Linked DNA regions of Homo sapiens. The protein of the gene in region 3 purifies or fractionates together with the protein of the main gene of each other region. This does not show direct contact. Each region holds a gene or a part of one and is shown on either strand. Other genes may lie near its edges.

Region 1 (2,886 bases), on a different chromosome or scaffold from region 3:
TTGTAGAATAAGAAAAAGAACAAAAAGTCATATACAACAAGTCTAAGCAATTAGGAAAAAAATGAAAAAGAAGGAAGTCTATAAAGTAGGAGAAGATTCCAGTGAGCTCAATAGAACTGATAACTGTAGATTGTATAATTTAGGTTTCTTCTATTTTTTAACCTTATTAACACCAGAAGTACTTGCATATTATAAAAAGCATACAACCGGGCTAACTTTGCATGGGAATCAGCATTAAACCAGCTATCCCTAACTAACTGATAAAAACACTCCTTGGAAGGATTATAGAATGGCAGAAATTAAAGGTACACAGCTCGGTAAATGATGCTAATGGCAACAAACATATTGGTTGAGATGCTTTTCTGAGTTCATAGCTTAAATAGGTTAAAGTCAGTCTTCTAAAGCATAACAACTTGCTGACTATTATTATCTTACACTTATTCAACAATTAAGTGGGATTTTAATACTATTGGTTTTTTTGTGAATTTTACAAGTTGATTACTAATTAGAGCTTTTACTAAAAATTAATGAAATATAAGTATTACTGTATATGTAAGAAAAGAAACACACTTGGCTATTGTTTTGAGGATATGCATTTAATTTTAAATTTTATAATTTAGATTCAGCATGAATTGCAATAAATGGATCCTCAGCAGAGTTACTAATAGAAAAATGAGCTTTGCCATCGTCAGAAACGTAGATTTTAATGCCTGTGCAATTGCCATTAATTTTATCTCCAGAAATGACATCACAGTATGTGCCAGCAGGAAGACCAGTTTGCAAAGTTAAAGAAAATGTCCTGTAAAATAAAATTTCAGATTTAACTTCAATACACTGAAAATCAAGAATACAGGCTAACACAACTAAACAGCATAACTTTATGTTGTAGAACCCTAAGCAGTGAAGTCTCATTAAGAAGAAAACCCATATGCCTCCCTAGTAGTTGTAAATAGCTTTCTAGGACCAAAAGTAACCTTACAGAAAATGTAGCAGTTCCCTGGTCCGTAGTGAAAATATTACCAAAAAATCAAAGTTGAAGAATATCACTGAAGATTGGCAGGAATGGTCACACTTTGATAAAAGTGCTAGCTTGTTAAAATCAAATTTGTTCTCAACTGAACTTAATACAAATTACTTTTAAAAATTTAAAGGGTTACATAAGTATACATGTGCCATGCTGGTGCGCTGCACCCACTAACTCGTCATCTAGCATTAGGTATATCTCCCAATGCTATCCCTCCCCCCTCCCCGTACCCTAAAATTTAAAGTATAATTTAAAAAAAAATTTTTAAAGGGTTTTATTTTTTTAATCTCCTTTTTTCCCCATAAGGTAAAAAAGAATTTGGGGCATACATAGAAACAATCTAGCATTTCTATGAAGAAGTGATAGTTTGAAATATAAAGCTTTCTCACAAAAATTTATTTTGGTATTTTCATCCACAAAAGAAAGAAATTAAAGAACTAGACATGGGCTTTTTTGGCAGGAAAGAGATCAACTAGATTTATGTATTTATGTATTTATTTATTTTTCATCAGTGAAATATAATTTATACTAGAATGAGCTAAGTATGAGTATCAGTTGGCTTTGGACAGAGACAATTCAACTGTTTGCAACGAGGTCTTCTGAGCTATAGGTTAGGGAATCATTTATACTTCAGTAAAGGATATAAGAATCACAGATGAAAGGCCAATAATGAGAAGTTTCGGAACTAAAACTCAAATCCCCTGAAGCCAATCATTAACCACAAGATACATATTATTTATGCATATGCTTTAAAAATATTATTTGTCACAAGGAGACAGAGAAGTGAAGAAAGTATACCAAAAAACTACATAGAGCAGTCATTGAGAAAAAGAGTTAGAAATAAAGATATATTAGTACTCAGGCAGCATTTTTCCATGATTAAAAAAACAGGAATATAAGACATGTTCTTTTAATGATTTCACAATCCTCATATTAACTACTTTGTGTATTTTGTGGCATGTGTAGGTGAGCATATGTATGTGCATTCAATATATGCATAAGATATTGCAAGGGTGCACAGAAAGGACTCTGCTTACAACAGAAAGCCCTTAATAAAACAGGAGAATGAAGGAGTAACAGCCATCATCTTTTTACTTCTGCCCAATTTTGATGTCTATTGTCTTCTTGCTCCACTGACTACATGATTTTTCAGATATGATAAATGTCAATGAACAGAAAAAAAGGAATAAACCAAGAGCATACAGGTACAAAATATTATTTTTAATTGATATGTACTTACCAGTCATCATTGTTGAAAACAATGAATCCTCTGTTTCCTCTCCCAAAAGCCACTTGGTTGCTCCCATTATCATACCAGTTTGTAAAAGGCTGGCCATCCACTACATTGCGGAAATTAACCATGTTCCTAAAAACACAATACCATATAAAACGTTGATATTCTTAAACTTCAACTGTTTTAAATAAAATGCAATGGAAAGTTTACTATTAGAGGACATGTCTAAATACATATTCTCACCTTATTTGGCGCCATCGATGTTCACAGACCCAGTCATTGCCACAAGTAGTGTCTGGATTAATAGTAACTTCTTTAATTACTCCATTATTATTTGGTGGCCCAACCCAATCATTAACATCCTTAATTAGGGGGTGAAAAGCCAAATTTTAACATACATATATTTACCTCTTCCTTCTCCTTTAAACCAAACCCAACCTATCCTGTTACTTGTGTCTCTGCATTCAATGACTTTATCTAGAATCCAATGCCTTCAATAATTTTTATAGCCCTTTACTGGGTCTTCATCATCTCTCTATCCTCTGGTTCTCTTTTGCCATATTTCAAACAAAGGTAACAAATTGTTATCCTCTCCTTTTCATTCCAAGGAACTGCAAAGGCTTCTTTG
Region 2 (4,175 bases), on a different chromosome or scaffold from region 3:
GTGCTGAGATTACATGCACGAGCCACCATGCCTGGTCCTGTTTGTTACACGAAATGTGCAAAATGGTTTTCTTATTCCTATTATCTCAACAGGTAATATTCTTATATTCTTTTATTTGATAAAGTATAGGCTACAATATTGAAAGAAGCATAATGTCAAAGATACCTGTTGTCCTGTGAAAATACTTACCTAATTTTTAGTCTTCTACATCAATGATAATAATAAGAGCTCACACTAATAAAACATTTAGTATCGACTGAAATTCCTTGATAAATATTAACTTGTTTCATTATCCAAAGAAAGTAAAGACATAACTATTATCAGTATCCTACATTCTGTGTACCTCCATAAAACATGTTGTGATAAAGAATTAGATATGCTGTATGTGAAGAAGAGGAGGTTAAAGAACACTGTTTTATGTAAATGTCTCATTCCTTATCCTACAGAAATTGCATTTTTAATTAAATCTTCCATTAATTTTCTAACGAATAAGATGATATTTTATAGGCATATAAGTATTGATGTACCTCCTGGTAAATGAAAGGTTTACTTCCTGCAGGGAACCAGTTACTGTTTAGATTATGCAGTTTGTCCAAAATTGCCTTTATGTCTCCAGGCCACATGTGCTTGGAAGCATCAAGTCTGAACCCTGCAACACCAATGTCAATGAGATGGTTCATATATTCGGCAATCTTAGAACGCACGTAATCCTTCTCCAGTGCAAGATCAAGAAGACCAGTCAGACGACAATCTCTGACCTGTTGAGGTAAAAATGTTATGATTGATTCATAAAACCTCATTTTTCTCCTGAGAATCCATTGGATTATTCATTTATTCCATGATTCCTCAAGAGATATTCTATAGTGACTTCCTTGCATTGGGCACTGGGGATGCTCACATTCTACTACAGATGTATCTTTGAAATATTTTCTAATAGAAAATAGAGAATTTAGGAAATAAAGTCGATGAGATTTTTAATTGGGAACTTCTTAGAAGTGGGCAAATGTGTATTGATTAAAAATCTTAAATCAATATTTGAAAGTTCTTAAATATGGATTTGAGTTTCTTAAAGTAGTCAAACTTGTTAACTTCTGTCCCTAAGAGATCTAAATTCCTATTTTAAATGAAATTCAATTAGCTACATGTCTACAAGAAAAGGCATATATTACTCTTTTATTCAGATCACTCTCGTAAAAAAATTACCTGAGTAGCATCATTGTAGTTCTCGATATCTCCACTTCCAGTTTTACATTTACCATCATTGAAATCCCATCCAGAATATGGGACTGCTGGAAAGTCCCTACTTCCAGGGTTGAAGTAACTTCCACAGGTACTGCTTGTTCCTGCACTCACAGCGTTACCACACATATGATTAATTACAGCATCCACATAAATACGAACCTAGAAAACAAAGTTTCTACTTCAGTGTGACTTACAGAGAGGTAGAAATTTAAAGCATTATTGATGCAAGTTTATAGTATGTTAATAAAACTCCAAAATATTTCATGATATCTTATAATTATTTTCCTACAAGATCAAAAATCAACTGTGAAAGGAAAGTAATGTGAACTAAACACCTACATGCCTTCTAGACACTTGGTCAAATATTTATAGGAATGATAAATTGAGAGACCAGAAACTACCATAAATAGGAGGAAATGCAAAAAGCCCACTTTGGGAAGACAAAACTCAGATGAGAGTGGAAAGGTTATTGTTTTGGAAATTTCAGTGGGTCACCAGGAGAAAGCCTGTACTCTCTATGAAGCTTTTGAAGACAAACAAGGTAGCTATTAATCTCAATTTATGCTCCTCATTAAATAGAGAAGCTAGCTATTCACCATGAAAAACCCAAGAATTACGGATGGAGACACAAGTCACCTAAAAATGATAGCAAACATTGTAACTGGAATTATACTTCCTAACCAGTAAATTGTTTCCGGGAAATACGAACAGTTATAAGGGTTAAAATTTGATGTTTTGCTTTAGAAGCAAATTCTGATTTAAACTTTAACTTACCTCTTTAGTAGATAGCACACACACAAATATTCACAAAAGTTGAACATAAATAAACAGTTAATTTTGAGTTTTAAATTATGAAGTAAAATTAAAAAAATAAAATACGGAAAATTTTCTGCTGAAAAGGAGCAAGAAAGAAGAGAGAGAAACCATTTTCCTGTCTGTTATTTTTAAAGGAAACTAGAATTCACTTACCCCAACATTGTTACATCTAGTCACCATGTTTCTAAATTCATCTTCATTTCCAGATCTTGTGCATAATTTATAGCTAACTGGTTGGTATCTTTCCCACCAAGGTCTGAAAGGGTTGTAAATTGCAACATTTTCATTTGGTGGAGAGACCTACAAATTAAACAGTCTTCATAAGTACCAAATTCTGTCTTACTGTGTATCATTGAATGTTCTAGAAACTAATCAATAGTATAAAAGATTCTTGAATCTTGGTATAGGCAGCTATCTCTTGAAAATATTAACAGCACATTGGAGGGCTCTTGGTGAAGAAAGATTATCTCAGAAACAAAATATAAAGTTGCCAAGAATACTACATAGATTTTCCCTCAGAAATCTCTTTTACTTAGAATACTTACCTGTGAAGTAAAATGTTGCCCAAGCTTCACAGATAAGATCAGAATACTATTTCCTACAAGCACAGTGAATTCCGCAATTGATACTATGAATCATACCCACCTGAACCCCTCCAAATCCCTTCGGAGCTAAATATCGCTCACATTCAAGAGCAATATCAACCCATCGCCATTCAAACAGATGAACAATAGATGTCCGTCCTTGTTGTGTATTTGGGGAATACTGAGCCCAGCAGAACCCAATGGTGAAAAGCAACAGAAAGAACTTCATTTTGCTTTGAAGTTGTCAGTGTCCTTTCCAGAAACTATTTATATTCCTGTAAGAAGCACATTTTACAAAGTAAATATTAGCATGAATAAATACTTGAGGGCAAACTGTTTATTCATAATCTGAAAAGGATTATCAATAATAATCCTAACAGGTAAAGAACATCAAAAAGTCTCTCATGGAAATCATCTAAATGACCTTTTAGATATTAATGTTTTTCTTAGGTTCTGGCAGCACTTTTATTTTTCCTTAAACAGTGACCTGTTGCTGGGGCCTAATGTTCTCACATAACAGTAGAAAACCAAAATTTGTTGTCATCTCTTTAAAGATCCAGAATGGCATACAAAAAAACTTTACATAAATTAAAAGGATGAATACTTTTACAGGTATAAATGCGAACCCCTTCCAACTCAAGGTAAGTAACAGCCCACGGTGCTCTGGTAGATAACGTAAGCTAAGAAAGGAAACTGGGTCCTATGGCTTGGACTTTCCAACCCTGACAGACTGACAGGACAGAAACAAGTGGTCCAGAAGCCCTTACCAGCCTCTAGACAAATCCCAGAACACTCAGCCCTGACACATTAATACCCTGTACAGATCAGAGACTGCTGGCCGCACAGACTCACCGAGCCAGACTGGTCTTCCACAAGCATGTTTTTAGCCATGAAGTGACCAAGCCACGTGTAGTAAAGACTGAAATCAAAGATATGTACAGATACCAAGGGCAACAGTTAACTTGAATACAAGGTCAAAATCAGCAACACATTCTACAATCCAGTGCTGATATTGAGAGGAGACAAAGACCCTCTCCTTGTTTTATATTGTTTTCTATTCAGTAAAAACAACCAGGAAGTACAACCAAAGACATGCAGCCCAGCGCCAGGCCTGAAACCAGGCCTGGGCCTGATTGGCCTAAACCCAGTAGCTAAAAATCAACTTATGATTTAGAAGCTGATATTATTCACAGATTCCAGACATTGTATAAAAGAACTCTGTGAAACTCCCTGCCCTGTTCTGTTTCTCCCTGACCAGCAGTGAATGTAGTCCTTGTCACGTATCCCTTGCTTGCTCAAATCAATCACGACCCTTTCATGTGAAATCTTTAGTGTTGTGAGCCCTTAAAAAGGACAGAAATTGTGCACTCCGGGAGCTCAGATTTTGAGACAGTAGCTGGCCGATGCTCCCAGCTGAATAAAGCCCTTCCTTCTACAACTCAGTGTCTGAGAGGTTTTGTCTGAGGCTCGTCCTGCTACAATGTCAGATACAAGCTTCAAGGACAACTTCTTTCCAAAGGCTTATTCCAGTTT
Region 3 (2,591 bases):
TTTACTACAAACTGCAAAGGAGACTTTGCTTTCAGAATCCTGTAATCAATGCTTCTTTATTACTATTTTACTTTTTCTTTCCTTCTTTTTTTTTTTTTTTTTTTTTTTTAAGACAGGGTCTATTTCTGTTGCCCAGGCTGGAATGCAGTAGTACGATCTCTGATCACTGCAACCTTTGCCTCTCTGGCTCAAGTGATCCTCCCGCTTCAGTCTCTCAAGTAGCTGGGACTGTAGTTGCACACCACTAGGCCCAGCATTTTTTTTTTTTTTTTTGGTAGAAGCTGGTTTTTATCATGTTGCCCAAGCTGCTCTCAAACTCCTGGGCTCAAGCGGTTGGCCCACCTGGGCCACCCAAAGTGCTGGGATTGCAAGCATGAGCTACCATGCCCGGCCTCCTATAATCAATGTTTTTTTTTTTTTTTTTTTGAGAGGGAGTCTTGCTCTGTCACCCAGGCTGGAGTGCAGTGGTGCTAGCTATGTCGGCTCACTGCAACCTCTGCCACCCGGGTTCAAGCGATTCTCCTGCCTCAGCCTCCCGAGTAGCTGGGATTACAGGCGCCTGCCACCATTGCCGGCTAATTTTTTTTTGTATTTTAGTAGAGACAGGATTTCACCATGTTGGTCAGGCTGGTCTCAAACTCCTGACCTCATGATCCACCCACCTTAGCCTCCCAAAGTGCTGGGATTACAGGTGTGAGCCACTGCACATGGCCAATCAATGCTTCTTAATAGTAAGATTTATTTTAAAATTTGGATTGGGGTTATAAGACTTTCAGTAGTCTTGGATATTACCATCTTTATCCTGAATGAAAGTGTAGCAAGAGGCTGGGCGCAGTGGCTCATGCCTATAATCCTAGCACTTTGGGAGGCTGAGGCCAGAGGATCCTTGAGCCCAGGAGACTAACCTGGGCAACAAAGCAAGACCCTGTCTGTATTAAAATTACAAAAGCGTGGTAAGGATCATTTCCTCATTAACCTTGAACATCCAAACACAAACCATCAAAAAGAATCAACTTCAGAAAGACATTATTGCTTTATTGGTTAAGGTGATTAAAAGAAGGGGGCCCCTCAGGCCACAAAGATAATTAACTGATTGTCACAAACCATATTGAAACTCTTTTTTAAAAAGGGTATAGATAACTTTTAATTTACAATTTTAACAATCAAAGTAGCCAAGAGTAGAGTTTGCAATAGGACTAGAAAGTATTCCAGTGGCTCATATATAAGTGGGCTAATTTTATCTATTTTTAGGCCTATTAGGCCTGTCAGTCTGGATTTTCCATTACTTGGAAATGGGGACTGGGGAACAGATGCTTCTGGCCACTCTGAGCCCTGGCTTGATCCTTGGGTCTCATCTCTCTCTCTCTCCCCGTTTGTGCTTCACCTCTCAGCGGATACTTGGCTCTTATCTCAGGACCTGACCTCCCACTGAGCTCCAAGCCTGCAAAGCATGCTGCCACCCAGTTATTTCCCCCTTAACATCCTGCCATCACTTCAAATTTAATACCCCTATGCCAAAAAATCACTGACTCCTAATTTCACTTTTGTTGGTGGCACCAGTTTTATTCTCTTGGACACCTAAGCTCAAAAACAGTGGAACTTCTTTTGACTCATCGCTCTCCTTCCTTCCCTAGAAGTGAGCTACCATTTAAAAGTGATGTGCTCATTCTCAGCAAACTATCCCAAGGACAAAAAAATAAACACCGCATGTTCCCACTCATAGGTGGGAATTGAACAATGAGAACACATGGACACAGGAAGGGGGACATCACACACCGGGGCCTGTTGTGGGGTGGGGGGAGGGGGGAGGGATAGCATTAGCAGATATACCTAATGTAAATGACGAGTTAATGGGTGCAGCACACCAACATGGCACATGTATACATATGTAACAAACCTGCACGTTGTGCACATGTACCCTAGAACTTAAAAGTATAATGATACAAAAAAAGTGATGTGCTATCATCAGTCACCCGAGAAATGCAAATTAAAACCACAAGGAGTGCCCTTATGCACCCACTAAAATCGAGCAGACTGAAGGTGCTAACTGTTGCCTGAGGATATGGAGTCTCACACATTGCTGGGGAAATATAAAATGGCCTGGGCATTTTGGAAACCAGTTTTGGTTAACAGTAAATTAAATGTACACTTACCACATGACTCAATAATTCTACTCTTAGGATTTACTCAAGGAAAATAAAAACATATGTCCACACAAAGACTTTTTCACAAATGTGCATATCAGCTTTATTCATAATAGGCATAAGATAGAAACATCCAAATGTCCATCAATGGGTGGAAGAATAAAGTGTGGTTTACCCATGTAACAGAATACTAGCAACAAAGAGGAACTGCTGTTACCTGCAAGCAATGGATGAATCTCAAAATTATGTTAAACCAGAGAAGCCAGACACAAGAGAATACATACTATATGATTCAATTTCTGTGAAATTCCATTTCTACAAAAAGCAAAACTTACTCATAGGGGCAGAAAGTAGACCAGTGGTTCTCTGGGGCTGGGTCAGGGAGAGAGCAGCTGACTGCACGGGGCATGAGAGGGTGACGGCAAAGTTCTGCACCCTGAATGTGAT

Evidence for each region.
Region 1: the proteins of ZNF843 (region 3) and AMY2B purify together in Homo sapiens (affinity purification with mass spectrometry; one large-scale study listed by BioGRID and IntAct). This does not show direct contact.
Region 2: the proteins of ZNF843 (region 3) and AMY2A purify together in Homo sapiens (affinity purification with mass spectrometry; one large-scale study listed by BioGRID and IntAct). This does not show direct contact.

Annotation. Positions count from the first base shown.
Region 1 is NC_000001.11:103,577,224-103,580,109, reverse strand, and holds the end of AMY2B (alpha-amylase 2B precursor), read right to left. Parts: intron 2,621-2,886; coding exon 2,502-2,620; intron 2,391-2,501; coding exon 2,265-2,390; intron 800-2,264; coding exon 610-799; 3' UTR 576-609; downstream 1-575.
Region 2 is NC_000001.11:103,616,137-103,620,311, reverse strand, and holds the start of AMY2A (pancreatic alpha-amylase precursor), read right to left. Parts: upstream 2,886-4,175; 5' UTR 2,872-2,885; coding exon 2,704-2,871; intron 2,359-2,703; coding exon 2,212-2,358; intron 1,402-2,211; coding exon 1,204-1,401; intron 759-1,203; coding exon 528-758; intron 1-527.
Region 3 is NC_000016.10:31,437,213-31,439,803, forward strand, and holds part of ZNF843 (zinc finger protein 843), read right to left. Parts: intron 1-2,591.